Linked DNA regions of Homo sapiens. The protein of the gene in region 1 purifies or fractionates together with the protein of each later gene. This does not show direct contact. Each region holds a gene or a part of one and is shown in the gene's direction. Other genes may lie near its edges. The genes, in order: ITGA3 and SEPTIN2.

Evidence for each region.
Region 2: the proteins of ITGA3 (region 1) and SEPTIN2 fractionate together in Homo sapiens (co-fractionation; one large-scale study listed by BioGRID). This does not show direct contact.

Annotation. Positions count from the first base shown.
Region 1 is NC_000017.11:50,062,610-50,066,109, forward strand, and holds part of ITGA3 (integrin alpha-3 preproprotein), read left to right. Parts: intron 1-1,467; coding exon 1,468-1,595; intron 1,596-1,918; coding exon 1,919-1,998; intron 1,999-3,500.
Region 2 is NC_000002.12:241,350,112-241,354,131, forward strand, and holds the end of SEPTIN2 (septin-2), read left to right. Parts: coding exon 1-63; 3' UTR 64-92; intron 93-1,831; exon of another isoform or gene 1,832-1,855; 3' UTR 1,856-3,916; downstream 3,917-4,020.

The DNA of each region.
Region 1 (3,500 bases):
ACCCGCAGGCAGTACATTCCTGACTCCCAGTGGGTGGAGATACCCCAGGCCCTGGCATGCCCAGGCCCTGCACTGCCCTGCCCTGCCCAGCCCACTCCCTGTAGCCCACACTCACAGGTCCCAGGCAGAAGCTACAGGCGTGGCTGTTGCTTGGCACTTCCAGACTGGCAGGAGGCCCAGAGCCCAAGTTCTGAGCTGGGAGCTGTAGAGTGATAGAGTTGCTGGGGCCAAATGGTGGGGCACCTGGGAGGTGCCTGCCACCCGAGAAGGCCAGGGCCATCAGGATTGAGCAGGGGCTCCTGGCAGAACATTTAGAGGCTGCAGGGAGGTGATGTGGGGAGAAAATCTGCTAAAACTGAGTTCTCAAACTGGGGTGCACCAGATTCCACCAGATGGTGTGTTGTGGGCAGAGGAATCTACCTTTTTAACAAAGATCCCCGGGGTTTCTGATGGCCCAAGGCTTGTCCTCTAAGATGGCATTTCAGGGCCAACCCCTGCCTCTTTCTGCTCCAGCCACCCCTCTGGTATGGGACGGGTTGCCAGGGTCCTAAGCATCCTTGCAGGAACTTGCTGTCTGCATCCCCAAAGATGGATTCTGGGCAGGCTGGGAGCAAGGCAAGAGCCCTTTCCCTCCCCACCTGCTGCCCACCCACTGGGAACTCTGCTCTGGGGCCACATTGTCCAAAGTGTCAGGTACTTATCCCAACCCCTACCTGTGTGCCTGTCTTAAGGTAACTGGGGAAGGATGTTGGACATCACCCAGGTCGCTTAGGGGCCCAGGTCTCCAAGATCTGAGTCTCCACATGGCTTCAGGAGGAAAAACCCAGCGTTCTGACAACCCAGTCCCCTAAGTTCTCCCCTCTGAACCCCCAGAATTTGAACTCTCTGCCAGGATTCCTCATCTTGCTCTCTTCTGGTCTACCTTCATCTCAAAGGCCAAAGCATTCCTTCCAAAACTGAGATCTGGCCATGTCATGCCCCTGCCTAAAATCCCTCTGTGGTTCCCCTAAGGACCTTCCCAGCCTGCCTTTGTGTGCCTCCCCAGAGGCTCCTGGACTCCAGCTATGCTGAGGGCCTTGCAGGTCTCTGATTCACCCTGCTGGCTCTTGCTTCCTGGCCCTGCACATGTGTGCCTTTGCCCAAGTGCTCTTCCTCCCCTTCTTCACCTGGAGAACCCTGGTGATTGTCCTCAGACTCAGATTAGGTCACCTCTTCTGCTGGCCTCCATCACTGCCCCCTCAGCCCTGAGCCTGGGCTACTGTGCTCCCTGCTTCCCACTCCCGGGGCACTTCCTTCTAGTGTCTTTTTTCCTTGCCTGCCTTACCCTACACTGGGCACTTCTGGAGGGCAGGAGCTGGGGGTCTCCTGGCACCAAGAATCTGTAAATGTATGTTGAATAAATAACAAGTTGTTCCAAGTGGGGCTTGGGGAGTCTGAACCCGGACCCACCTCCGTCCCTATCCCCAGGCTCCTGGCTGGTGCCCCCCGGGAGCTCGCTGTGCCCGATGGCTACACCAACCGGACTGGTGCTGTGTACCTGTGCCCACTCACTGCCCACAAGGATGACTGTGAGCGGATGAACATCACAGTGAAAAGTGAGGGGAAGGGGCTGGGGAGGGGTGCTGGGTCAGAGGTCTGGCAGGGGGGTACCGCAGAGAGAATGGCCTGGAGGAGATAGAAGGCTTGTTCACACGGCTTCTAGTCGCTTCTTGTCCAGCTGGGAAGAGGGTGCCCTAGAGGAGAGTGGGGCTGGATGGGATTGGTAGAGCTCAGAATAATGACGAGCTGGAGAAGGGGAGTTGGGAGGGCTGCCCTGTGGGTGGAGGGCCCAAGCGGGACCCACTCCTGCCCTCTGGAGACTTTGGGCACTGAAGTATGGGTGAGGTGCTCTGATTCATGATCCTTCCGGTGCCCACAGATGACCCTGGCCATCACATTATTGAGGACATGTGGCTTGGAGTGACTGTGGCCAGCCAGGGCCCTGCAGGCAGAGTTCTGGTAAGTGGGTGCTCAGTGTTGGCTCCTCCACCTCTACCCGGCTCTCCCCTCATCTCCAGAGCTGGGAGGAAAGAAGAGGGCAGCAGGGGGGTCCACGGCGCGTGTGTGCTGGGGCCTGCACACATGTCCCTTCCTGTGGCTGTGTGTCCCTCGCTCTCTGCACTCCTGGGGAGGGGGTGAGTATCCTGTGCTCTCCCAAACCCCCGCACGGCCTGAGTTCTCTGACTCATCCACTTCCTCCGCATGCCTACACTGGGTGCTCAGCCTTCGTGGGAACAAGCCGAGGGAGCCGAGGGAACTGCAAGGAGGAGAAAGGGCAGAGAGGGCCCCAGGCAGCTCAGCGCTGGCTGGCGCTCCTTCCTGGGAGGCTGACTGCCGGAAGAGGCCCAGCCCTGCTGACCCCGGCTCACCCAGCTCTGGTCTGGGGGCTAATCAAATGTGTCACCTCCTGCCCACATTCTATAGTGGCAGCCCCTGAGTTCTCCATTTCTGGGTCCCAGATAGACATTTCCCCCCGCATTTTTTTCTCTCTCTGTCTCTTGTTGTTGTTGTTATATTCCAAAAAGGATTTTGATTTTATTGCTTCACACACAGAAGAGTTCTGGTTAAGGCTTGCCTTGCTCCTGGTGCTCATATGATGCCACCAGGATGTGATTTATCTCAAGCACTTAACTCTGTGTTCTTCGTGTTGCCTCCATTCTTTGATAGGCATTCTTTTCGTAGTGCCAAGATGAATGCAACAGCTTCAGCTTTATCTTCTTTGACCTTCAAGTTCTATAGTCCCAGTAGATATCTGACTACAACTCATTAGCTCTGACTATTTCAGGTACTCCTCTCTGAAACAATTACTGTGACCAAGAGAATGCAATACTTATACTTTCTTCAGACATGAATTATCAGTATCCAGATAGGCACATAAACTCAGTCTTAGAATGTGTTGCTTTGATGTCAGGTTTTTCTCTTGCCTTGATAGTTCCACATGGCTGGGGAAGCCTCACAATCACGGTGGAAGGCAAGGAGGAGCAAGTCCCATCTTACGCTGATGGCAGCAGGCAAAGAGAGAATGAGGCTGTCTCTCTCTCTCTCTCTCTCTCTTTTCTTTTCTTTCTCTTCTTTCTTCTTTCTTTCAAGATAGAAGACTCCCAGCTGGGTGTGGTGGTTCACGCCTGTAATCCCAGCACTTTGGGAGGCCGAGGCCGGTGGATCATGAGGTCAGAAGTTCGAGACCAGCCTGGCCAATATGGTGAAACCCTGTCTCTACTAAAAATATAAAAAATAAGCCGGGTGCAGTGGTGCCCGTCTGTTGTCCCAGTTACTTGGGAGGCTGAGGCAGGAGAATCGCTTGAACCTGGGAGGTGGAGGTTGCAGTGAGCCAAGATCACACCACTGCATTCCAGCCTGGGTGACAGAGCGAGACTCCATCTCAAAAAAAAAAAAAAAAAAAAAAGACTCCATCTCTCAACCAGGCTGGAGTATAGTGGTGCCATCTCAGCTCACTGCAG
Region 2 (4,020 bases), on another chromosome or scaffold:
CAGATGCAGATGCAGATGCAGGGCGGGGATGGCGATGGCGGGGCTCTCGGGCACCACGTGTAAGGTGATGTGCACATATCAAGAAGTCAGAGGTAGGCCCTGTTGTCCCTTAGCCTGGAAGACAGGCAGTTACTAACATTGTGTCAGCTTAAATATGACAGGTTCCTCCTTAAGCCTCATTAATATTTTGCATTTTGAAGTAACTCCATCACTAATCTTAAACAAGGAGAGATTGCTCCTGAAAAACAGAAGCCACTACTTTGCCACCTACTTTCTAGTAAAGATTTTTCATATTTTTGTCTCTTCTTTTTTTTTTAAATAATTTCAACTTTTATTTTATTGGGGTACATTTGCAGGTTATTTTCTAAGCTTGCAAATACCAACATTAGAAGGAAATTATGTATTAAAGCACTTTTATTAGTTGTATTATTGGAAATTTGTTAATTGTTAAAACATCTCTTTAAAGGGAATAAAAACGTGTTATTAAAACAGCTTGTACAGATTAAAAGTAGAGATGGCACAAGGAAGAAGAATTATGTGAGGTAGATAAGGGTTCCCTGGATGGTGACTGCTGACCTCCTGTTCCTCAGATAGCTTTGTCCCGACTGATGGTCATTAGTGAATAGATCTGTCTGGCATGGTGTATGCTGGTCTGCCTGCTTGAAAAGAATCTGCAGACTCCAGAGACTCAGGACCAGGAAAAGGCAGATGCCCACTCCCCTGTATCTTATGTATCTTATGGACAGGCAGGCTCTCTGAACTGTCCAGGTGGCCACTCCCATCACTTGCCAGAGGAAAAGCATGAAAGGTAAAGTTAAGTAATGACCTAAGAGTCCAAAGAAGAGGGTAGGTCACATGGAGCTGGGGTAAAGGCAAACAAACCTCATACAAGAGATCTGATTAGAGCTTGAAAGAGAGTTTGAGTTGGCCAAGATCTGAGGATGAAACGCTGGGAATTTGGTAGAAGGTCTCTACTACAATTCAGGGACCTCATTCTGGAAGCATGAGTGTGTTCATGAAAACAGGGAGGGGACTTGAGCCTTCAACGACATACGGCAGGGTGGGTTAGGCAGAAGGCAGGGAGTCTTGAGGCCTCCACAGCATGTGGACAGGTGGCTGAGGAAGGACCCAGAGTGACTTGCTGGAGCCTTAGTCACCAAACGCTCTTGCAGCTTAGTGGGAAAGGTGTTCATTGTAAAATACGGTATTTACACAAAATGCACAAAAATACGTATGTACAGTTTAATAAGTTACTGTAAGGAAAACATCCATGTCACCCCCAACTGAGTCCAAGTTGGTTGCTTTAGTTTCATCATCACAGTGACACCTTAGAATAGTCCTGAGGGTATGTGCTTAGTTCACACTTTACTGATGAGGAAATTGTTGCCGCTCCGAGAGTTTAAAAGTATTTGCTGATGGTGCCATGACTTTTAAACGATGGCCTGCTGACTCTAGAGGCTGGTCCTGCATAACCAGTTAATGGCATGTGACTGGGGAAGTGAGGGTACAGTGGAAAGAGACAAGGATGCCTCAGCGATGCAGCTCATTTGAAGCAGGAAGCAGTGACAGGTGTTTGCTTATTTTCTCTGAGCTTCATTTTCAACCTTTATGGAATGAAAATTTTACTTTTAGATCGATAAAATTTTATTTCTGTATACTTTCTAGTTTTGCAGCATTTCCAGTTTCCAGGAGCCTCATGAATGGCTTTTTGGTTTAGTTAACTTTGTGGTCATGTAAGCCCTGCCTTTTGCTCAGTTTATGACCTTTGTTAAGGAGAAAAGTAGAACTGTTAATAATTAACGCAGCAGACATTGCCTCACTCCCACTTAAGTGTGTTTTGTTTTCTTTTTTCTAGAAAACACTTTCCTGGATAAAAAAGAAAACATTCCAGATGCATGATCCAGCTGTGTGTTTTCAATCCTTGGGAGGGTGCCATCCACATTTTAACAGTACCTGTGCCTGAGAATTTAATTTTTAAAAGACTTTGATGTGTTTTTGTATGAAGTACTTTTAACGTATGTATTTCATTGCTGTGTCACACTCTGTGTTTTGTGAGGTGAATGTCTTCCTTTTCTTTCTCCCTAACCACTAATGTTAGAATTGATTTCCAAGAATCGGCATGTATACTTAATACTGAATTTCTTTGATTTAACTGACTTAACAACTGACTAACCATTGATGAGCACTCCTGATTTTTATCTAGAACATTCAGATTTACCATAATGTTCCTTAGTGGTAGAGGTGTGTGCCTAGTGATGTAGAAAGATACACTGACTTGGTGCAAGGCCATCTGCTTACCACATCACACCACTTGGAGATCTTTGCTTCCTTGCTTTTATGTTTGTACACAACACCTAAAACCAGTTTTGCTGCTATAATTCTATACTGTTGATTCGTCTGCGATTTTATCTGTTAACCAAATAAAACATAATAGAATTTCCTAATGAGATATATCTTTATACTTAAACAGCTTTTTTAGAGGTGAGTTTTAAAGAAGTCTCTTAATTCTGATGCTAGGTTGTTTTTAAAACCACTATGCAAAGAACTCACCACAAGCCACCTTTTGTAGTGTTCTCCACTAATACTGGTTATCCTGTGCTACAGAGAAAATCAAAGCAGTCATAAGCTCCAGTTTTCGTATTGCAAATAAGACTCTTACCTACAAAATGAGATTCAGTGAACTAATTTGGTTTTTACTCAACCAAATTAAAAATTTTTTTAAGGAAAATTAGCAGTTGGTCTATTCAGAATCAAACCTTTTTATATTTTATACTGCACTTTAGTGTATTTTCTGTCACTGTAGGTATAGAAGATCTGCCTCCCCTGTGGAAATTGGGGTCTGTTGGTGGGCGTGCCCCTGAAGCCTGGCTTGGGTTGAAAAGTGTTCCCGCCCTAAGGCCTTGGTGCCCTGAACCTCTGATGCCTACCGGGTTCTCCTGATTTGAGTTTCCTTTAAATACTCCCTTTTTGAGTAATTTTCTGATGGGAGGAAAGTAGCAGTCATCATCTTTTTGTGTGCAGGCTGTCTCATTTATTTTTAGCCATTGTCGTTTCATTCATTTTGTGTAATATAAACCGTGTGTCATGTCAAAGTGAAAGACATTTCAAATCTGTAGCATAGGCTAGTGGGCAGGTCCGCACAGTCGAAGCCACACCTGGTCTGTTTTCTGTGCACTGTAGCCTTAGTGTCACCTTTCTTCTTGTGTCTCCTTATGGTACACTCCAGCGGTTGCCTTTTTTATCATTTCTACTGAAGTTGGGAAATTCAACCCCAGAAATTGACAGATGAAAGGAGACAATGGTTGTGTAGGGAGATGGAGAAAATGCTTAATCTGAGGATGAGACAGGGTTTTTTCATTTTTGTGGGGGCTAGAAAAAACATAAAATGAGGCAGTTAAATAATAATAGTTAATGAAGGTGTGCTACAGAAAATAATCTGGTGTTCTTGCTAACTTTGCCCTTCACTGTTGCTTAATTGTGAACAGCCAAAAGCTATATGTTATGGCTTATTGTGTGAAGGTAACTAAGAAGTGGTGTTCCATGACTTCAGAGTACATCCATGCGGAGTCCATTATTTGAGTTTGACATTTAATAACTTTGCTGGAAAATCTGTAAAAAAGAAAAACAAGTTTGCTAGTGACTAAGCCCCGCATATGTGAGTGAAAGTACTTCAGGCACGCTGCCTCCTGGTAACAGCTATGCAGGGAGGGAGGACCCACACTGCTACACTTCTGATCCCCTTTGGTTTTACTACCCAAATCTAAATAGATACTTTTGATAATAGATAACTGCTCTTTTACTAAGACATAGTCTCTACCTATAGAAATGTATTTTGAAAACACTTATTTTACACAGCAATTTTGTATCCATTTAAACTAACCTTTTATCAATAAAGCACTATTGTTTAGATATTAAATGAGTATTTCTCTTGGTTATTTGCAAGGGAAAGTTGTGAGGTTTTCTGGGAAAATTCAAAGTCTTGACAACATCTTTGTATAAAATCAAGAAAAATTACTTGAA